3 linked regions of the Homo sapiens genome follow. The protein of the gene in region 2 interacts with the protein of the main gene of each other region in a pairwise test. Each region holds a gene or a part of one and is shown on either strand. Other genes may lie near its edges.

Evidence for each region. The genes of interacting proteins can lie anywhere in the genome.
Region 1: the proteins of LRRC7 (region 2) and SPTBN1 interact in a two-hybrid assay, tested with the Homo sapiens proteins (one study listed by BioGRID).
Region 3: the proteins of LRRC7 (region 2) and NQO2 interact in a two-hybrid assay, tested with the Homo sapiens proteins (2 studies listed by BioGRID).

What each region holds. Positions count from the first base shown.
Region 1 is NC_000002.12:54,451,308-54,459,522, reverse strand, and holds the start of SPTBN1 (spectrin beta chain, non-erythrocytic 1), read right to left. Parts: upstream 3,197-8,215; 5' UTR 3,005-3,196; intron 2,793-3,004; exon of another isoform or gene 2,558-2,792; intron 2,357-2,557; exon of another isoform or gene 2,216-2,356; intron 2,132-2,215; exon of another isoform or gene 2,036-2,131; intron 1,815-2,035; exon of another isoform or gene 1,720-1,814; intron 1,541-1,719; exon of another isoform or gene 1,346-1,540; intron 186-1,345; exon of another isoform or gene 115-185; intron 1-114. UniProt on the Homo sapiens protein: Fodrin, which seems to be involved in secretion, interacts with calmodulin in a calcium-dependent manner and is thus candidate for the calcium-dependent movement of the cytoskeleton at the membrane.
Region 2 is NC_000001.11:69,563,827-69,571,211, reverse strand, and holds the start of LRRC7 (leucine-rich repeat-containing protein 7), read right to left. Parts: upstream 3,291-7,385; 5' UTR 2,573-3,290; coding exon 2,571-2,572; intron 2,460-2,570; exon of another isoform or gene 2,397-2,459; coding exon of another isoform or gene 2,392-2,396; intron 1,872-2,391; exon of another isoform or gene 1,767-1,871; coding exon of another isoform or gene 1,708-1,766; intron 1-1,707.
Region 3 is NC_000006.12:2,995,590-3,003,089, reverse strand, and holds the start of NQO2 (ribosyldihydronicotinamide dehydrogenase [quinone]), read right to left. Parts: upstream 3,197-7,500; 5' UTR 3,005-3,196; exon of another isoform or gene 2,723-3,004; intron 1,041-2,722; exon of another isoform or gene 804-1,040; intron 1-803. UniProt on the Homo sapiens protein: The enzyme apparently serves as a quinone reductase in connection with conjugation reactions of hydroquinones involved in detoxification pathways as well as in biosynthetic processes such as the vitamin K-dependent gamma-carboxylation of glutamate residues in prothrombin synthesis.

The sequences.
Region 1 (8,215 bases), on a different chromosome or scaffold from region 2:
TTTCCACTAATCATGTCTATGTTAGCAGTAGTAAAATCCTTCCACGTCAAAATAGTACTTCCACATGTAAAGTCATACATTCAAACATCAAGACAAAGCAACCACTCTACAAACCCTTCCAGGAAACTCTGCCAATGCCAAGCCTCTGCTCAGGATGTGTCACAAGTAGAGGGAGGTCTTCTCATTTGCTCTGCAACATCACAGATAGTTGTTACTAGTCTTGCCCAAGAGAAGTTCTTCACAGAAAACCTCAACTGTGGGAGACGACCTAGTGACAGCAGTTCCTTCACTGCCCAATACTTCTCCTCTCAGATGAAGGTTTTGGTCACTCCAGTAATGACAGAGTTACAAAGAGCTTAACCCAACAGAATTCTGCACCTGCTGTGTAAGTCAGAACAGCTAAACCTCCTGTGACATCAACACAGGATATTTCTTACAACAAAGTAAATCCAAAACGTTTGGATGATCCATGGGAACAACATTCATAAAAATCTGTACGCAACACGATTTTACACAACCAGCACAAAAAGTCTCATATTTTAATGGCTATTAGAGAAACTCAAAATAACGCACATACACCACACAATGTACATGCAGTTCTATTCTGCAGAGCCACATGAAATCAAAAGCAACTAACTTGGATTCATTAGAAATATTTAAAAATACAAGCAGGCACGCCCTTGGCTTGTAAACACTGACCTTCCCTTCCAACTAGCATATTGAAATTTCCTTTTTCACCTAAACATTTTAGGAAAGCCTGGGTTGACATTTGAAATATATCCCATTTGCCATCCCACACTGAATAATGAATTATAGAGATGGCATTTAGAAGGGAAATTCCCTGTGTCCTGGCCGAGACTAAACATGAGAACACTGGGAACCATCTCCTTCTGACTAGATGCCAGTCAAGAGGCCTTGGTGGTCTGCCCTTCTCCACCCTCTCCCCAGTCACAGCTGTGAAAAATATGTATACAAAAAATACATATAAACAAACACAAACGCAGTGTTACTGTCATAATCCCATTAATTACGCCCGGACACTTAACTTGGCTACCTCAATCAATAGAAATCTGAATACCAATTTAGCCCCCATCATGACACTCATACACCTAATAATCCTTAATAAAGCATCCAAATAATGCAACTGTACTTGACTTAGAAAAAGCAAACGATGAAAACAAAATACAAGCTAAAGGAATCATTTACTATCCATTAAAAAACATATAAATTCCTTTTAAAACAACCTACTGAATTTTAATATACTTATAAATGTCTTAGTGACATAAAACCCAAAATGCATTAATCATTTCATTTAAAAATGGTTTCCTACAGAAAAAATGCATACTTGGTATTAACCAAAGACAGACGAGGTACTGTAATGTCACAGTTGTGAAGGTCCAATTAATAAACACCAACTTTTCACGTAGAAAAAATTAATGCATAGCTGGGTTGTGGTTACAGATTATGGACGATCCACAGAAAAACGCTGCGACTCCCCACACTGCAACATTGCCTCCGCACACCACTGGGCCCAGTCCTTCCTGCAGCCCCTCCCTATGGCTCAGGTCCCCTGGTCGCAGATCAGATTCCGATCCGCAACCACAGGCCGGCTCCCCTCTGCCTGCACTGGTGATGCAGGGCGCCCCTCCGGCAGAGCGCAGCCCAAGAAGAGGTGCAGGAGGGATCATCCCAAAAGAAAAGACTCTCCCCTGCTCACACCTAGCTGACCTGGTCCTCCTGACGCCACATCCAGCAGAAGCTGCAGGACAAGGTAGCAGCAGCTCCAGGCCTCGGCCAAGGGCAGCCCCGGGCCTGGGTGGGGCCGGGCGGGGGCCGCAGGCGCCGAGCGGCCGTGCCAAGCCCCGCCAGCGAGAACCAAGGAAGCTGCGATACTGCTGCATTGTGCTGCATCACGGCGAGGGCACCGTGAGCCATCCATCTTGCCAAAAAAGCACATCCCCGCCCAAATAAACCCCACCGAATTCAATTTTCTGCTCCGCCGAAGCACCCCCACACGCACCCTGTCCTCACTTACTATCTGGCCTGGCTTTCGATTGGAAAAATAATGGACAGAGGTTTGCGTTCTGATCCCCACCCCCTCCTCATCTGATGGCAGCAGTTGGCACCTTTCCTATCACAAAAACAAAGAGAAGGCGCCCCCTAAAAGAGGGCCGTGGGCGTGGTGTGGGGGGTGATGACGAGCCAGCCCACCTACCCAAAGCAGGCCCGGAGGGTCCCTGCGCTGAGACAAACCTGTTGAAGAGAGGGTGGCAGGAGCTGAAGGGCGGGCGCAGCGGCGGCTCGGCGCCCGGAGGCGGCTCACGCCCAGCCCTGGGAGAGTGGGGACGGCAGAAAGGGCGGGGGGGGGGCGGGCGCACGAGGGTAGCAAGCGCAGGGATGGGGCGGAGGTGGGGGCGCGGGGCCGCCGCCTCCGGCTCAGCTGCAGCGCGGCGCAGCCGGGACCACGCCTGGCCGCATCCCCTGCACCGCTACGCGCAGAGCCCGGCCCTGTCACCGCCGCCCCCGCTCCCCACCCGCGGGGCCACAGAGAGGGCACCTGAAAATAGACCCTCCGGCTGTCCGCTGTCCGCTCCGCACCCACCTCCGCGCCAGGGGCCTCCGCGTCAGGGGCCGCCGCGCCCGGCTGCAGGGAGGCGCCGGCGGAGGCAGGGAGGAGGAATCGCCGCGCCGCGCCGGGGCTGGGGCCGGACGGCAGCGGTGCGCACGGCGGGTCTGCTGCCGCCTCACCGCAGAGCCTGCCGCCCCTCGTCCCGCATCATCCGAGTACCAATGAGCACCCGCGACCCGGGCTCCCCGCGCCGCCCCCGCCCGGGCTTTGCAGCCTCCCTGCCCCCACGCGGCTCCCCGGGCGCAGGGCAGGCGGGCAGCGGCGTCCTCCGGCCCTGGGCCCGCGCCCCTCCTCCCGCCCGTCCGCCGCCGCGGAGCCCACCCGGGAGGCAGCCCCAGTGAGTTGGCATCTCCCTGCCTCGGGCCCCCTACCTACCTCCCGGGGATGGGGTGGGGGCGCCGGGGTCCCGTCCTCCTCCCGCTCCTCGGCGGCCGGGCGGGTGGGCCGGGAGGCGACTCCGCGGGTCTGTCCGCGGCTGGGGCCGGGGCTCACAGGACGGGACCAGTGGGCGCTGCTGCGCAGGGCTGCGCGCTCGCTCCGGGAGGAGAGGCGGCCGAGGGAGGGACTGGAGGAATCCGCAGCCTGCACGGCAACAGCGGCACTGATTCCGGGGGCTGGGCGGGAGCGCGGGGGGCGGGGGGAGGAGGAGAGGAGGGCGCTCGCAGGGAGGGGGCGAGGGGCGGGGAGAGGAGCGCGCGGGGCGGGCGCGCGCGCACACACACACAAGCGCACTCCCGGGATCCCTCCCGCACGCCCTCCGCCCTCCGCACTCCTCCCTCCCCACTCCCGCCCGCTCCCTCTGCTTCGCCCGCCCTCTCCTCCTGCCCGGAGCCCCGCAGCCGCCCAGGGAGCCGAGCCTCGGGCGCGTCCACGTCCTCTCCAGCTGAGGCTCTTCCCGGGTCCAGCCCGGACCTCATCCTCCCAGCGGCGGGGACCGACCAGGCTGGCCGGGGCGGGGTGGGCACTGCTGCTGCCGCTACCCGAGCAGGACAATAGGGGCTTTGTCTCCACAGCCGGAGAGGGCCAATTTCACGTTTAATTTGAGGCTAATTCGATTATCGCCATGGAAAGAGGCGGTCTAATTTTCTACGTGATTTGTGCAGCCTCTTTTCGCCCTTGATGTTGCGTTCGGAATGCTGGGGAGAGAGGGTATTTAGGGAGGTTTTGGAGCGTCACTTGCTTGGTTGGTTTGAGATGCAGTTGGTGATGCCTTATAGGTTCTACCCAACTTGGAGAAGGGCGACGGCGACCTCTTCGTGGGAAACCTTGGGCGCTGGAGGATGGGTGGTGGGGGTCGTTCCTTGTGAGGTTAATGTATTCTTTTGCAAATGCTTTTTCGCCCACCCTTTCGCTTTGGGTAGCTGGGAGCAGACCCTACAAGTGGTTCATCCAACTCCTGCCTCTCAGTGCAGGCTCCGCTCGAACCTGAGGCCAGGTGCCCTGCCCCAGTCACTCCCGAGAGAGGGGTCGTCCGGCCGCGGTGGAGGGCCCCGTGATGGCGTGGGGACTTGCGTTTTCCCCTATGCGCATTCCCTGAAACGGAAACTGGACGTTTCCTCAAATTTTTGTCATGTGCCACTGCCCCTTCCCAGTCACCTGGTCTACCCCGTCAGCCCCTCAGGCTGTGTAGAAATTCCAGAACCGTCACTGTTGTGAAGAAAAGATGGTGGAATCACCAGGACCACGAATGGAAACGCTCTTTAGAAAAGCAGTTTGAAGAAACTGACTTTCTCCTTGTTCTGTAAAGTGCACAGGGCGGCACTGCGGGCATTCAGAGGGAGGAGGGCCCTTCCTGTTTGAAAAAGCCCCAGGGCTTTTTCCCCATACAGACCTGATCACCTGGATTAAAATAAAACAAAAATACACGGCAGCCAAGTAGTTTGTATCATGCTTATATCTCAGATCACTAGAACCTGGCCTGATGGGTTTATATGTTTGTATGTATTTTTAAATGAATATTTTAAAATAAAACTCAGTGAAATCGTCACAGCAAACTGAAGATGATTCTTCCTTTTAGGCCTTCATAGGTTTGAATGTTTGAACCTATGTTTACTTTTGATAGGAAAAAAATTGAGGAAAGCAAATAACATTTTTTCTCAGAAGGTGAATCAACACAACCAGACCGTAAACTCTCTTAAAGGTAGGGTTATTTCTTTCTTCACTCTGTACATATAGCAGGCACTTAGGTACTAAAACAAATTTGTTGAATTGAACACAATCAACTTGTAAGCTGCTGCCCTCATTAGGTAATAAGGGAAATCCACTAGAAAGCAAAGTTGTTTGCCTTTCACTTACTTATTTTTTTACCATGGACCCCAGCACCTCCCCACTCACAATGTTAATGAAATACCAAAGAAAACAGTAACAATATTGGGAAGTGCATCCATTTAAATTAATTCTTCCAGTGTTATTCTGAAATGGTTATTCCTTTATCACAGACAACGGTATTTAAATAAATTTTCATTTGATGAATGATTCACCTCCCTTACCCCATTCCACTCCCACTTACGTTGTTTTTTAATTAAAAAAAAAAAAAAGGCCACACACACCTTAGCAAGGTACTCTAGTAAAGCCCCAGTAATTATTCCAAAAATGTGAAAGACAAGGATTCAGAGTTCTACTGTAAATACCTGCATCACAATTTTGAATTCTTACCCTTAGGTGCAAAAAATCACCCTAGAGAACTCAGTGTACCAACGACCAAAAAGAAGTAACAATTCAAAGAAAAGATAGTACAACTGGAAAGATTATTGGAGAAGACATTTTTATGGAAGGCAAAATCTAAAAAAGATAAAAAGTCTTAGGCAGTGATAACAGCTCAGAAGGATTATTCCCATGTATCTCAGAAGCGGCTTAGTTTCTTCTCATATTAGAATCAGGGTTGATATAAAGGAACCTAGAAGTCTTCAATATCATGTTTGTAACATACTACTCTCCACTTTTAAAACCATGTGATTGCATATGGCTTTATCTCCCATCAAAATACTTTATTACAAAATTTTTACAGATATAAATTGTCATTTTAACTTTCCATTCAGAATGTAGGGGAAGGCTGGGCACGGTGGCTCATGCCTGTAATCCCAGCACTTTGAGAGGCTGAAGTGGGTGGATCACCTGAGGTCAGGAGTTCAAGACCAGCCTGGCCAACATGGCGAAACCCCGTCTCTACTAAAAATACAAAAATTAGCCGGGCATGGTGAGACACGCCTATAGTCCCAGGTACTCTGGAGGCTGGGGCAGGAGAATCACTTGAACCTGGAAGGCGGAGGTTGCAGTGAGCCGAGATCGCACCACTGCATTCCAGCCTGGGTGACAGAGCGAGACTCTGTCTCAAAAAATAAAATAAAATAAAATAAAATAAAAAGGTATTGATAAACAGTATTGTCTACTACAACCTGTTTTGTTTAGAAAAGAGAATGATACTCTAAGTATTTCCTTGGTTATATTATATTAACCCAATTGAACTCATCTTTTATTGTACTGATAATAGCCCAAAACTTTAAAATCAGAACATATTTTGAAAACTTGCATATATTTTTAAAATTCCTGTTTACTCCTAAACTTGCTTCCTTTTAACTCTGAACTAGTCTGGGAAATTTCCTCATATTTAAAATATATTTCATTTGGGAATTCACATGTATTAATTTTGCACTGGGAAAACCTAAAGACTTATATGTAAACTATCATTATGAATGAATTTTTTAAAGCACTAATAACATATTTACTCTTGCATAAAGTAATTTATTCTTTCATTATTCAAGAGATAGATATGCCTTATATTCTTCTCGGCTCTGAAATAGAGCAATGGGTAAAATAATTTTAAAAAATCATTGCTTTCATGGATCTTCCATTCTAGTAGATTATATCTAGTATTCCATTCTAGATATAATCAATCAATAAAAAAGTAAAAGATATGTGTAATGATAAATCTGAATAGATGGTAACCTAAATGTATAACAATATTTATAAAATGATCACAATAAATGGTCTCAGCTTTCTATAAAAGATCTTCACATTTTCTATGTTAATAATAATAATGATTATAAGTAGCAACCATAAAATGTTTTCCAGTTTTTAAAATGCTTTATCAAATATTATCTTATTTTGTCCTTTTGCCAGTTCTGTGAGGTAAATATTAACCCCATTCTGTGGATGACCAAATGGTCAAATGAGTTGCCCAAGTTCTCACAGCTAGTTAAGTGCCAGAGATATCTTAGGAGCTAGCATATCAGAGCTGTATGCCTGGGCATTGCATATGAATTACTCAACATAACTCTATTTTGCAAGATGGAAGAAAGTTCTAGAGATGGATGGTAGTGATGGTTCCACAACGATGTACACGTACATAATGCCACTAAACTGTATGAAAATGGTTAAAATGGTAAGTTTTACGTTGTGCGTATGTTACTTTTTTTAACCATTCAGAAAATTCTTTTGGGTTTTTTTTTAACTTTTATTTTGGGTTTGGAGTATATATGTAGGTTTGTAAACAGGTAAACTTGTGCCACAGGGGTTTGTTATACTTATTAATTCATCACCCAGGTACTAAGCCTATTACTCAATAGTCATTTTTTCTGATTCTCTTCCCTCCTCCCAACCTCCACCCTAGAGTAGGCCCCAGTGTCTATTGTTCCCATGTTTGTGTCTGTGTGTTATCATCATTTACCTCCTTCTTATAAGTGAGTACATGCGCTATTTGGTTTTCTCTTCCTGTATTAGTTTGCTAAGGATGACAGCCTCCAGCTCCATCCATGTTTCTGCAAAGGACGTAATCTTGTTCTTATGTGGCTGCATGGTATTCCATGGTGTATATGTATTACATTTTCTTTATCCAGTCTACCACTGATGGACATTTAGGTTGATTTCATGTCTTGGCTATTATTAATAGTGCTTCAGTGAGCATACATGTGCATGTGTCTTTATGATAGAATGATTTATATTCCTTTGGTTATATACCCAGTGATGGGATTGCTGGGTTGAATGGTCATTCTGCTTTTAGCTCTTTGAGGAATCGCCACACTACTTTCCACAATGGTTGAACTAATTTACACTCACAACAGTGTAAAAGTGTTCTTCTTTCTCTGCAATATCTCCAGCACCTGTTATTTTTTGACTTTTTAATAGTAGCCATTCTGACTGGTATGAGATGTTATCTCATTGTGGTTTTGATTTGCATTTCTCTAATGATCAGTGATATTGAACTTTTTTCATATGCTTGTTGGCCACATGTATGTCTTCTTTTGAAAAGTGTCTGTTCATGTCCTTTTCCCACTTTTTAATGGGCTTTATCAAATATTATCTTATTTTCTTGTAAATTTGTTTAAGTTCCTGATAGACGCTAGATTTTAGACCTTTGTCAGATGCACAGATTGGAAATAGTTTCTTCCATTCTGTAGGTTGTCTGTTTAGCTCTTCTGCACAGCAAATGCTCAACATTTTTAGTCATTAGAAAAATGCAAATCCAAACCACTTTGAGATACCACTTCACATTCACTAGGATGGCTTTTATTTTATTTAAAAGATGGAAAATAGCAAGCGTTGGTGAGAATGTGGAGAAATTGAGAGCCTTGTACATTGTTGGTGGGA
Region 2 (7,385 bases):
ACAAGTGATGTAGAATTTATGTGTTGGCCATGGTAAGTACACATTTTTTCTTGGATAGTCAGTTTTTTCTTAAAAATGTATAAAGAACTCTCACCTCATAATAAGTCATGAAAATTGACTGTTTTTCTTATCATTACATATTAGTATGATGCAATGCAGCATAACACATAAATAAACCACCTTTTAAAAACTTTAGCCTACTAAGATGGATTATAAAACATTAAGTGAAAATGAAATAAGAAATCTCCAAGTCAGGTAACTCTAAATGTTGGGTCATAAACAAGTTATATCTCCACTAAATTAATAAATATTCTGACCTCAGGACATTTTCCACAGGCCTGAGACACCTCAGAAGTCCAAACTCAATCACTAAACACACCCCCAATATACTTTAGCCATATGACTCTTAAGGAAACATAAAATCATTCCTACATCCCTATTTGCTCATTTTTCCCCCTGTGCAATCAATGATTTCTAAAAAGTAAAGACTTCATTGCTTTACTGTCTTTTGTAAAAACAAACAAACAAAAAACAACAAACAAACAAAAAACACCTCGTGGTAGTTCCCTTAGAGTCCTTCCTGGAAGCCAATTCAAGGAAGCCTGGACGGAGGCGTGACACTTGGACTGGGAAGGTGGTGTAATCTGTTGCGAATCACAGCAGGTTCTGAAGTGCTGGAGAACCCACGTGTGCAGGGGCTGGAGAACTTTTCCACCGTCTCCCAGAGGAAATGCCTCATTTTAAAATAGGGGGCTGGCTGGAGCAAGGGGTGGGGGTGAAGGGTGGGCGGTAAAAAAAGGCAGAGGCGAAGCTTTCAAACCGTTCACGCATGTCTACCTGTGCTTATTTTCCCTCTATTTCGCCTCCGATCAACTTTATTATTATTATTATTATTATTTTCCTTCTATAGGAGGACTTAAGCAACCAGGATGCTGAACATCTCATAGGCTCAGGCTGGAACAAAGAAAATCGAGTTCCTAATACTGTATCTCACCCGTTGGAGGGATCACGTGTCCTGCTTTCGCTGGAATGCACTCTTCTCGCCCACGCTATAAAAATCTCTATTGTGCTTAGAAATTTCGCCTAGGTTAGAATATGCTCACAAAAAATTGCTTTTCATCCACCAGGAGAGCCACATTTCGACATATACAGATACAAATCTATTTACCTGCTGACCCAGTTACCACTGCAGGTAAATTCGATGTGTTGAAAGAGTATTGGGAAAGTAATTGAAAAGAGCAGGGGGAGGACCCCTGTGTCTTACCGATCCCCACCCCCATCGCTTTTTTTTTTTTTTTTTTTTTTGTAATTCCTTTTGAAGGAGAACTTCGAAAGGAACGTGGGAGTCGCAGATGGTTCCTTTCTGAAGCCGATTCCTGGGAGTTGTGAAAGTGACCCCGTCTCTTCTCTGCCTCGAGCTGTGCCCTCTCGCCCAACCCGCTCGCTTTATGACTTGATGGGGAAGAGACAGCCAGAGAAGAGCCGGAGTAGAGGGCGGAGGCGGGTCCTTTATTCAGCCCTGATGGCCGAGAAGTAGTGTAAGGAAGCAATCTTTCAGCCATCTCCGTTATTATGAAGTCACACTATTTTAAAAGGCAATCTATACAGTCCCCCAACCCCCGCCCCCATTCTTGACTCTGCAAACAGTAAGATTAGAGACCACTGGTAGCCAATCTAATAGTCCACGAGCCAGGGTGCCATGATTACCTTAATGCTAATGTGCTTCCCTCCCTCTTTCCACGTCGAATCCGAAACACGTCCTGCATCCTTAATAACTCGGAGAGGAGGACGCAAGATCCTCAAGGGGACCCAGCGCTGGATTGGGAATAGGCAGGTTCACCAGCTTCTCGTGCCACACAAAGGAGATGTGTGGGCAGGAGTTGTCTAGCTGACAGGGAGGGAGGCAAGGTTCTCCCTGACTCCCAGGGAACACGCTCCCCCACTTCTTTCCGTCCTCCAGTCTTTCATGTTCCTTCGTCCCCTCCATCCCCCCAAACCCCACCCTTTCCCTTCAATCCCAATCACATAAAAATCTTCTAATTGTATTTTTTCAAACAGACATCGAGACATTGATACAACACCTTCCAAGATAAAGAGACAAGTGCGTCCTGCCACAAGTGTGTGTGAGTGTGTGTGTGTGTGTGTCACGATCAAACACGCGCTTCATCCCTCAGACACCTCTGGGAAAAAAGCTGACTGGAGATACCCAAGATAATAACGAGGAGCTAAACCTAATTTCAGCGGAACCAATGGTCCCAGCACCAGCGCCCAACATTTACCTTTCCTTTTCGCAGTATGTAACCCTTTAAGGTCTCTTGCCAGCTCAAGCTACTCGGTGCTCCCATGCACCCGCCCAGTTAGCACCCCATTTCCAAATGCTCTGCAACCTACCACATCTTCGCCGCCTCCCTCGGCCACCGCACAAGCAGCTCCCCGCGAGCGCCGAAGCCTCCCGCCCTGCCACCCCCGCCCCCGGCCGGCCTCTGGGGTCCCACACCTCGCGCGCCTACGGTCGCCGCGGCCGGGCCCCCGCAGCACCCTCCGCCACGGAGCGAGCGTGCCTTACTCACATCGCCGGCGGGAGAAACTGCCCATGAGGTTTCGGAGAGCGTAGTCGTGCAGCTGCCAAGGGTTATTCCTTAAGTGTTCAGGGGTCCGCAGTGGAGTGGGCGCCAGGGTCTTCGGAGGAGAAGAGGAGGGAAGGAGTAGAAGGTAGGAAGAACAGGAGATAGAGGGGAATCCAGGAAGGTGCCACGTTAGACCATGATGCCAGTGCCCTTCAGGTGGACGGCTGGAGAGGTTCCCGCGGGAAGCGGCTGAGGGGAAGCCCGAAGCGCCGGCGGGGGAGGCAGGAGCGCGTCCACTCCCCAGCCTCAGCCTGCCCAGCGCGCCGCGCTAGCGACCGCAGCAGCAGCGGCGGCGGCGGCGGCGGTGGCGGAGGCGCAGCTCCCTCCCCGCCCCCAGAAGGCTCCACAGACAATAAATCCTGGGCGGAGAAGAGACAAGCAGGAAAGGCGAATCCTGCACCCAACTCCGTAACAACCCCTGCCCGTTGCCGCGCCTGTGCAGGGCGAGGATCCCCAGGGGCCAGGGCGCAGCGGGCGTCTCGGAGGGGCTGAGCGCTCCGCAACTGCAGGAGGCGGTGGCGGTGGCCCGAGTGGGCGGCTGCAGGTCCCGCCGGCGAGAACCCGCTGCACTGGGGCTGGGTGTCCGTGGCTTCAAGCCCGGTGTTCACCCGGAGTAGGGTCCTCCTCGGTGCAGTGGCTCGGCGCACAGGTGCCAGGATTGGCAGGCGAGGAGGCGCCGCTCATGGCTCTTGGCTGTGTCTCACCGCTCTCCCCGCCCCCTCTCTTTTTTCCCACCCCCTTTTCCGACGACACCAGCTGCAGCTGCTTCAAAGTGTGAAAAATGTCAAGGAGATTTTCCAATGATAGGAGGGGGTAACCATGTTCACAACCCTCGGTCTCTTTTTGAGATCCTCGCCTGTCCCTCTGACCTCTACTCCGGCTCCCCCAAATTATGAGAAGAAAAATCCCAGTCCTGCACAGGATTGAAACGCTAGCCTTCTCCCGGCTCCGTCACGATAGGCTGCTTTTCGAGAACGGGACGAGAGGCCGAGCTCTCTGGGTTCCTCTCGCCTCCGTGGTGTTCGAGGCAGGTGGCACGAATCTCAGCGCGGGGCGGAGCGCGGCTGCCGGCTCCTCCCGCTCGCGGGCCAGCCCCGGGCGCTCGGGCAGCGCGGCGCGGCTTTCTGCAGCGCGGCCGCCTGAGCGGCAGAAGCGGCTCCCGGCCTGTGCGCCTGCCTGAGCGCCCCTGCACCCGCACTAGCTCAGTGACGCTGAGCTCGTGGCTCCTCAGGCTGCTGCTCCTGCTATCTCAGCAAAGAGGCGGCCGGGAGCGCCTCCTCGGGGTTTCCTCCCCCGCCCGCCTTGCCTGCTGCAGGTTGTTGGCTGCCAAGGAGAAAAGTCTCCGCTTGTGCGTCAGGTCGCTTCACATCAGTCATGGCAGCGAACCTTGTGCCTGCTCTTAAGTCCTCTCCTCATTCTGGGGTTGCGGCTGCTGCCCTGGGAGTGCACAAAAAGGGAAGGGTTTTCCCAACTTCCCTTCATATATTCACCGCCCCTCCTCCTGCCATGAACATTCTCTCTGACACACACACACACACACACACACACACACACACACACACACACTCTCTCTCTCTCTCTCATATGCTCCCTTACGTAAAGGCACACACACTTTCTTCTTATACGCTTCTCTAAAGTCCCAGAAGCAGCAAGACATATCAATGAAGCTAGTACTATATTTACACTTTTTTTTTTTTTTTTTGAAACGGAGTTTCGCTCTTGTTGACCAGGCTGGAGTACAATGGCGCGATCTCGGCTCACTGCAACCTCTTCCTCCCCGGTTCAAGCGATCTTCCTGCCTCAGCCTCCCGAGTAGCTGGGATTACAGGCGCGTGCCACCACGCCCGGATGATTTTTTTTGTATTTTTAGTAGAGACGGGGGTTTCACCATGTTGCCCAGGCTGGTCTCGAATTCCTGACCTCAGGTGATCCACCTGTCTCGGCCTCCCAAAATGCTGGGATTATAGACGTGAGCCACCGTTCCCAGCCTATATTTACACTTTTATTCTCTACACACATCTAATGAATTACATCTTTAAAAAAGGATATATTATGCTGGTATTCTTTTGTGGAATATAGGCTATGTGGTTTTTGTTTCTTCATTACAAGAGAGAAAGAATCTTGTCTTTAGTTCTCTAACCTCGAACACAGTCAAGACTGTGCACAGCATTCAAATGCCACTCTGGGGGTGTGTGTAAGCTCACAGTTTGCCAAAAGAAAACACACCTGATTGTATTCTTAGATTTGGAATGCTAAAGTCTTCAAGGTCAAAAATTATGTTTCCTGGCTGCTAGAAATTGTCTAGGAAGAGACTTGAGAGACTGGCACCTAATGTGCGGAGGACCTAGAGAGGAATTATTGCCCACTTTATCTGGGCCATGAAGGTGGGCTGACTTTTAAGGACAACTTGCCAGTGTTTCATATCATTTGCATATAGAAAGGAAAAGGAGTATATTTTGAAAAGCCAGATCGTTTTTTATATTGTTACAAAACACCAAAAGAAAGGGCTCTGAAAATGGCAAGGAAATGGAATAAAATTGTTAAAAGAATTTTTTTTGAATTGACTACTGTTGTGCTCTGTTTTTTTTTCACCTATAGTGTTGTCCTTTTAAACATTTTGCCACATCTCAATGTCTCTGCTGGATGAAGTGACATGAAATATTTTAGGTGCTGATTAAAAATGTATTGACAAAATAACCTGGCGCAACAATTACACAATTATAGCGGTCCTTTATGGGTTTCCAGTTCTTTTTAATACAGTCAACACAGTACTTTCACATATATTCTTTCATTTAATCCTTTCTTAAATCTAGGTGGTGGATAATCTAATCCACACTTACAGGAAGGGCACAAAGGCTCATCTCATAAGGGTGTCCAGTTGCCCTGCACTTGAGCCCAGAATTTCTTATTTTAACTTCAGGCTTCATTGTTTTGTATCAAAATATTTGACAAAAATTATTCTGTTTAAAAACACAGCCAGTTATGAGTAACTGCAGATCCTTGCATACAGGCAGCATACCTACCAATGAAGTTACCTTCTGTGTGTTAAGTGGAAGTAGTTTCCTACGTGGAAACAAACGTATTCCTTTCCAATGGAGAAAAAGATAATTTTGGAACCCCGAATTAAAAATTGATGGTGCTGATATAACACATTTCAAACTACATGTCCTCCTTTCCCATTTATCTTGTCCTAGAATCTTGATTTTGGACCATAAAAATCCAATGGATAAAATACTTTAAATATGTTCAGATGTCCACCTAATTGTTATGGGTTTTAACAAACAGGATTATAAGGTGTAAAGAGAAGGTATTCTCTTTAGAATAAGCTTTGAATACAACGGCTCCATATTTTTGTAAGATTATGAATCTTGAACAAAATCTGGCCACCTTTACTATTTAAACAATGAGACATTGAAGAGATTTCAGTGGTTTCATAGAATTATGGAACTATTGAAATGCAAATGCAGGTGCTGTCTTTAAACTTCAAGCTGCCCTGTCATCAACCCTCTGGAAATGCAGATGACTGTCTAAAAATTGGAGAAAGATAAATGCTAAATATACTTTGGATGTTGTTCAAGCAGAGGCCCAACACTAAAAACTATCACCATTTTACAAATTAGATCAAGGCAGTTTTAACAGATTTGATGTTCCTATTACATCTATAAATGTTTAGACATTAAGGCTATAAAATTTTGCAAGTTGTTAATCAATTTCTTTGACCCACACTGCTAAAATCTTTGAAATGATAATGCTTCTTAGGATAAGCAAGACTAACCTTATTTGAAAATAAAACTCATGGCGATATTAAACAATAAGATGTCAAATATCTTTGAATATTTCCCTTTGGATGCCTGAAATGCTACACTTGTCGTAAAAGATATCCCCTTTGGCAATTACTCATTAAAATAAAAGTACATATAGACAGGATAACACTTTTAGTTTTTGAGTTGTTAGTATCTTAACAGGATTGGCTTAATTAGATACTGGTAATTAGGGAAATAGAAAACATTACTGAATTTTGATGCATGAAGATGAAGGTCTGAAAACCTCAGAGACAGTAGACCTTAGTAAGACAGGATCAGTATGAGTGGGGTACTGTAAGGGTGGACAGTGATGCTTTGTTGTGGTTAGTTTTTGAAAAACCAGGCTGAGGTTCTGAATAGAAAATGGAGGTAGGTCATTAAGATTTTTCTTCAAATGAATTTGTTAGAGGGCTTTTACTATGAAATTGGCCTCTCAAATTAACAATCTGTTCTAGCTAAAGAAAATGCTTCTTTATTGTGGATTTTAATTCATTTGAATAATTATTTTGTAAACATTAATTTGCCTAAGATGAAAAAATACAGTGACCACTGATATACCCATTATGCCCATTAAGAAAGCATTATGGATATGACTGAAGCCTCCTCTCCCATTCCTCTCTCTGTCCACCCCATTCCCCCACACACAAAAGATAACCTCATTTCTAAATTTTGTATTTATTTGTACATTTATACATTCATACATTTTGTGCACTTTGAGTACTAACAATATTTTTGTATCGCTTAGCATAGGTAACCCTTATATAAATGATATAATACAGTATGCATTCTTTTGCAAATTGCTTTTGATTTTTAAAATATCAACATTATGTAAATAATAATGATTCATATTCATATGTGTCACTCTGGTTGACTGATTTTTGATGCTGCATAATAGTTAATTGTATAAACTCACCACATTCACATTCTGATGACAGTTTTTACTATTATAAGTAAT
Region 3 (7,500 bases), on a different chromosome or scaffold from region 2:
AGAAAGCAAACTTTGGCTATCACAATGCATAGGGAGGCCTGGCAAAGCCCAGGGAAGCAGAAGGCCCAGCACTTTGAGAGGCTGAGGCAGGAGATCACTTGAGCCTAGGAATTTGAGACCAGCCCGGGCAACATAGTGAGATCCCATCTCTACCAAAGATTTTTAAAAATTAGCCAGGTGTGGTGGTGCATGCCTGTAATCCCAGCTACTCAGGGGGCTGAGATTAGAGGATTGCTCCACTCCAGACTGGGTGACAGAGTTAGGCTCTGTTTCAAGAAAAAAGAGAAAGTAAAAGAAAAAAAAGAAAGCCTGTTTGGCTGAACTGTGGTTCAAAAAAAAAAAGAGTGGATGGTGGTAGATGCAGTCAGGGAGGTGGGAGGGGTCTGACCTGACCCCTCCTAGGGTAGGGGTGAGGATTTTATTCTAAGCCTGACAGAAAGCCCTTGGAGCCTCTTAAGCTGGAGAGTAATATGGAATGATCGCCAGTTGTGGTGGCTCACACCTGTAATCCCAGCATTTTGGGGGGCCGAGGTGGGGGGATCACCTGAGGTCAGGAGTTTGAAACCAGCCTGGTCAATGTGGCAAAACACCATCTCTACTAAAAAATACAAAAATTATCCGGGTATGGTGGCATGTGCCTGTAGTCCCAGCTACTTGGGAGGCTGAGGCAGGAGAATCACTTGAACCTGGGAGGTGGAGGTTGCAGTGAGTCAAGATTGTGCCATTGCACTCCAGCCTGGGCAACAGAGCAAGACTCTGTCTCAAAAAAGAAAAAGAAAATAGAGTGATATGAAATGATTTACCTTTGTAAATGTTGCCAGTGTTTCTGCAGACTGGGGGAACACCTTATCCTGATTCCCAAAGTGATTGCCCGAAATCATGTTGTTTGTATGAAATGCTTCATTTTCACTCCTCTAGACAGGGCATCCATTCTTCAGTGTCCCCAGCTCACCACTCCCTTTTGTATTCCTTGGCCCAGTTTACATGTTTACATCATATGGCTGGTGGCATGTGAGTTTGTGACTTCTGTCTCCATCCCCCTAGCGGTTAAGAATAAGAATCTGAGGTCCAAGAGCTGAGTGACTAACTCAGCTCTATTTGAGTGACTCAGCTCTATTTTCTATACTATTTGAAATAGTGGGGAAAGACTCCAACACAGGCTCTTGACTTGCAGTTGTGTCACTGTTCACTTGACCCCAGGCACTTCCCTTGGCACCCCATCCACAGCAGTGACAGTTCTCTCCCTTTTTAGAAACTATGCACCTACCCAGGCCTACAGGAAAAAAGAGCCATGTGGTTATTAAACTGTATATACCAGGTCAAGTGGGCTCTGATATTTTTGACGTGTACATTATTTAATTTTAAGAAGTTATTTTATAATGTTTTCACTTTTTTTCCTGTGCCTCTTTCCATGTGGACAGTCCCCGTGCTGGGCATTCTAACAGACAACATCTCACAGTGTATTCAGTGTGTATTCATGCGGCAGCTAAACCATTGCCTGCATACCCTTTTGTGCCCATTTTCCTATTTCTGGGACCTTAGGTTATTTCCATTTTTTTCCCAAAACTATAAACAGCACAGCTAGAAGTATATATTATTTAATACTTGTTCCTTTTCATGTATTTCTTTGGCTGTGATCTTCGGAGATTAAAGGTTAAACTGATTTATTTTTTCAGAGATTAAAGGTTAAAGAAGCTGATTTTTGGCCGGGCGCAGTGGTTCATTAATCCCAGCACTCTGGGAGGCCGAGGCAGGCGGATCACCTGAGGTCAGGAGTTTGAGACCAGCCTGACTAATATGGTGAAACTCCATTTCTACTAAAAATACCAAAAATTAGCTGGGTGTAGTGGCACGCACCTGTAATCCCAGCTACTCGGGAGACTGAGGCAGGAGAATAGCTTGAACCCGGGAGGCAGAGGTTGCAGTGAGCTGAGATTGTGCCATTGCACTCCAGCTTGGGCAATAAGAGTGAAACTCCATCTCAAAAAAAAAAAAAAAAGAAAAAGAAAGGAAGAAGAATGAGTTCAAGACCAGCCTGGCCAATATGGTGAAACTCCCACCTGTACTAAAAATACAAAAATTAGCCGGGCATGGTGGCAGGCGCCTGTAATCCCAGCTACTCAAGGGGCTGAGGGGGGAGAATCGCTTGAACCTGGAAGGCAGAGGTTGCAGTGAGCTGAGATTGCCCCACTGCACTCCAGCCTGGGCAACAGAGTGAGACTCTTCTAAAAAAAAAAGAAAAAAGAAAAAGAGGGCCGGGAGCAGTGGCTCACGCCTGCAATCCCAGCACTTTGGGAGGCCCAGGCGGGCGGATCACGAGGTCAGGAGTTTGAGACCAGCCTGACCAACATGAAACCCGTCTCTACTAAACATACAAAAAATTAGCCAGGCGTGGTGGCACGCCCCTATAATCCCAGGTACTCGGGAGGCTGAGGCAGGAGAATTGCTTGAACCCGGGAGGCGGAGGTTGCAGTGAGCCGAAATCGTGCCACTGCACTCCAGCCTGGGCGACAGAGTGAGACTCCGTCTCGGGGAAAAAAAAAAAAGCTGATTTTTTTTTTTCCCAGAGAGATTATAGGTTAGAGAAGCTGATTTTTCATTTTTTCCACAGTGCCACAATGTCCTTGACAAAGGCAGCGCAAACCAGTGGTTCAGCCGCGCCTTCAGGGCAGCGCTGGGCAGCGCACGGGCCTAAACCCCGGTACCCCCTTTACAGACTGACCTTGGGCCCGCTGATTCCTACTTGTAATATGACTATGATACCAGCACCCGCTCCATAGGGTTGAGGGCAGATTCCACCAGACGATTCGACACCGGGACCCTGCGTGTGGGCGCGTTCCGTGAGAGCCAAGCACGATCCTATGTACAGAATGGTCCCTGGCCCGGGCGCGACGACCCACAGGGCCATATGGCCGGCCAGCTGAAATCCCTGAGAGCGTTCTGGCCGTCCAGTCCGGGAACTGTCCTTCCCAAGTCCCCCGGTCCCCGACAGGGGATCACTCACCTTCCGACCAGCGCACTCCCCAGTAGGAGCCGCAGGACTGGGACCCGCGTCTCCCCAAGGACCGCTCTAGGAGTTGCGCCAGGTTCCGGCCGCACTGGACCGCGCACTCGCTGACGCCTGGAGGGCGGGAGCGCTGCGACTGCGCCCCCGGGGACCACGGACCGGTGCCAACCTAAGCAGCCCGGAACCTGCCCCGCGCCGCGGGACTGCAGGCCTCTTTACGCAGCGCGCCTACCACGCCGAGGCCCCGCCCACTCACCCGCCCCGCCCGTGAGCCCCGCCCACACCCCGCCCCGCCCCCGAGCCCCGCCCACTCCCCGCCCCGGCGGTGCGGTGCCTCGCTCCGCGCCCGTCCGCGCCCAGGCCCCGCCTCCACAGCGGCGTCCCGCCCCACCCACACCTCGCCTCGGCCCCTAAGCTCCGCCCACTCCCCGCCCCTGAGGTCCATCTGGGGCCTCGCCCGGCGATCTGGGACTGGGGAGGACCCTGCTGACTTCCAGGCAGGTGGAAACTGGATTGATAGAAATCCAGCGCGGGGAGGCTGTGCTGAGAGGAGGGACGCCCCTGCCCTGCGCCTCCCGCTCCCCATCTCTGGCTGGTATCCCGGTTACAGAATGAGGGTCCGTGGTGCAACAGAAAGAATGAGCCACTGATACACTCATCAGCTTGCTCGGATCTCCCGGGGAGTTACGCTGGTGAGAGAAACCAGTCCCAAAGGTCACTCACCGACGGCGCCGCTGGTGTACTGGTATTATGCAAGATGCCCTCGCAAAGGTCACGCACGGATGGTTCATTTATCCAAAGACCAAAGGAGAGAAATGCAGGACTCATTAGCAGTGCCCAGGAGATAGGGGGGCGGGTGGGTGTGGCTATAAAAACGCAACCCGGGGGGTGCCTGTGAAGGAAATCTGCGTCCCGCGGAACGCAACACGCTGTTGGGATACTGGATTGTCCTTTGTGAGATGCCACTATCGGGGGAAACCGGATGGCTTCACAGAAAAAGTTCGTTTAAAGGAAAATGGTTTAAGGCCAAGGAAATACCTAGAAAACGGAAAGTCTTGAAACCAGAGCCGGTGGGGAGTTATGGGGGGCGGTGCTGGTGAACAGTTTGGGCCGACTTTTTCCAGCGCTTGCTGGCTTCTGCCACCTCATTTGGCAGTCACCTGCCACTGTGACCTCCCCAAGTCCCTTCTCCAAACTCAATTCCTTGATTTCTGGTGTCCCGGGATGGCCCCACTCCAACAATAGAGCAGAAGGAAGGAAGGTTTCCCCTGTGTTTAGAACGTTCCTAACGAAAATAACTGCAACTCTTGATTGTACCTCCTGAGGGTCGTTGGGACTTTCCCTCTCAGACATTTATTGGTTCATTCATTCGTTCATTTTGCTGTAACTCACAGTGGCCCTCCCCATCCTAAGGTGCACTGCTGGGATTGGTCTATGTGCTGATGATGTTCTCCTTGTCTTCAGAGGTGAGAATGTGCCCTCCCTCCGAGATGCCCTCTTGCCCCTGAGCTCCCCAGCAGGGAATAGGCTGCCTTGTCTTGTGAGTCCAGATCCTGGGAACAACTTTCATTTAGGAATGGAACAGCAGGTCCTGGGAGCATTGGCGCCTGCGCGCCCATCATGCGCGTGTGTGATGCAACATCACCACCTTGTGGCAGCGAGGAGCTATCACAACGTGGACTGAGCAAGTTGCTCCCTGCTTGGGGTTGGGAGCTGGACTGGCCTAGTTCCCTGGGTCTTTTGTAACCTGAATGGTGGTAGATTCCAGGACAGTTCAGTAGGAGCCCATCCTCAAAAGGAAAATAACAGAACTTCCTGCTAATCTGGTATTGGGGCTGAGCAATTACTGCACACTAATGAGATTGACCATAATTGCATCCTGAGTTTGAGGAGGAGGTCATGCTACTAAAATGAGATAAAATCAGCTCCAACGACAAACATCATCTCTGGGGGTTTCCAGATTCTCACTTTTCATTTAATCCCCAGCCTTAGTGGAAAGCAAGAGTCGGAGTCGGCATTCTGGGCAGGGAGGCAGGTGAGGCAGGTACACATCTCCTCTTCTCCCCAACGCCCCATGTTTCTATTTCTGAATAAAATGAACCATCATGGTGCTAAGGTAAAGCTAAACTAGCTGAGCCACCTCCTGAAGAGGTCATTGCTTTTGTTTTTATTTAATGAGATTTCTTTCCCTTCTGCTACCAGCATCCCTATTCCTTTGGAAAACTGCTTCTTCATAATAACATAAAGGTTTTGGATTTTTTGTTTTGTTTTTTGGGTAGCAAAATCTGTATAACATGAAATTTTCTATTTTCACCATTTTAAGTGTACAATTCAGTGGCATAAATTACCTTTAGAGTGCTGTGCAACCATTACAACTATTTATTTTCAAAACGTTTTCATCATCCCAAATAGAAACACTTGGGTCAGGGGCCATAGATCACGCCTGTAATCCCAGCACTTTGGGAGGCAGAGGCATGCAGATCACCTGAGGTCAAAAGTTTGAGACCAGCCTGGCCAACATGGCGAAACCCCATCTCTACAAAAATTTGCCAGGTGGTGTACACCTGTAATCCCAGCTACTCAGAGGCTGAGGCAGGAGAATTGCTTGAACCCAGGAGGCGGAGGCTGCAGTGAGCTGAGATCGTGGCACTGCACTCCAGCCTGGATGACAGAGCGAGACCCTGTCTCAAACAAAAACAAAAACAAATAGAAACACTGCACTCATTGGATAATAAATCCCCATTCTCCCCTCCTTCCACTCCTGGTAGCCTCTAATCTACTTTCTGTCTCCATGAATTTGTCTATTGCATGTATTTCATATAAGTGGAATCCTACAAGATGTGGCCTTTTCACTAAGCTTTTTTTCCTCAAAAACCTTGTTGCTGAGTTTCATCCATGTTGTAGTATGCATCAGAACTTCATTCCTTTTTATGGCCGAATAATAGAAAAATGTGTATACCGCCTGGCCAACGTGGGGAAACCCCATCTCTACTAAAAACACAAAAATTAGCTGGGCATGGTGGTGTGCACCTGTAGTCCCAGCTACTCGGGAGGCTGAGGCAGGAGAATCACTTGAACCCAGGAGGCAGAGGTGGCGGTGAGCTGAGATTGTGTCATTGCACTCAAGCCTGGGCAACAAGAGCAAGACTGACAGAAAGAAAAGAAAGAAGAAAGAGAGAAAGAAAAAGAAAGGAAGGAAGGAAGGAAGGAAGGAAGGAAGGAAGGAAGGAAGGAAGGAAGGAAGGAAGGAAGGGTACCAGGCATTGTTTATCCACTCATCTGTTGTTTGACTATTGTGAATAATATTGCAATGATTATTGGTGTACAAGTATCTGTTTCAGTCCCTGTGTTCAATAATTTTGGTTATACACCTTGGAGTGGAATTGTCGGTATTACAATTCTATGGTCATTCTATGTTTAGCTTTCTGAGGAACAGCCAAACTGTTTTCCACAGCGTCTACACCATTTCACATTTTCACCAACAATGTACACAGGTTCCAACTTCTCTACATTCTCACGCACATTTGTTATGTTTCTTTTTTTTCCCTCTAAATTATAGCCATCCTAGCAAGTGCGAAGTGGTATCTCATTGTGGTTTTGATTTGCATTTCCCTAAGGACTAATGACTTTGAGCATCTTTTCATGTGCTTACTGGCCATTTGTATACCTTCCTTGGAGAAATGTCTATTCAAGTCCTTTGTTGACCATTTAATTGGGTTGTTTGTCTATTTGTTGTTGAGTTGTAGGTTTTTTGTTTGTTTTTTGAGACGGAGTTTTGCTCTTGTTGCCCAGGCTGGAGTGCAATGGCGAGATCTCGGCTCACCGCAACCTCCGCCTCCTGGGTTCAAGTGATTCTTATGCCTCAGCCTCCCGAGTAGCTGGGATTACGGGAATACGCCACCACGCCTGGCTAATTTTATATTTTTAGTAGAGACAGGGTTTCTCCATGTTGGTCAGCCTGGTCTCAAACTCCCGACCTTAGGTGATCCGCCCACGTCGGCCTCCCAAAGTGCTGGGATTACAGGCGTGAGCCACCGCACCCGGCCGAGTTGTAGGTGTTCTTTACATATTCTGGATGTTATCAGACATAGGATTTACAAATATTTTCTCCCATTCTGTAGGTTGTCTTTCACTTTCTTGAAAATGTCCTTTGATATAAAAGTTTCACATTTTTTATGAACTCCAATTTACCTATTTTTTGTTGTTTCTTCCTGGGCTTTTAGTGTCTTATCTAAGAACCCAAAACACAAGATCATGAAGATTTACTCTTACGTTTTCCTCTATATGGCTTTAGTTCTTATATTTAGGTTGTGAATTATTTTTCACATATGGTGTGAAGTGGAGCCCAACTTTAGTCTTGCATGTGGAAATCCATTTCTCTCACAGCATATATTAAAGAAACTATTATTTCATCATTGAATGGACTTGGCACTCTTGTCAAAAATTCACTGGCCACAGATGTATGGATTTATTGAGGATCCCTTGTACATCTC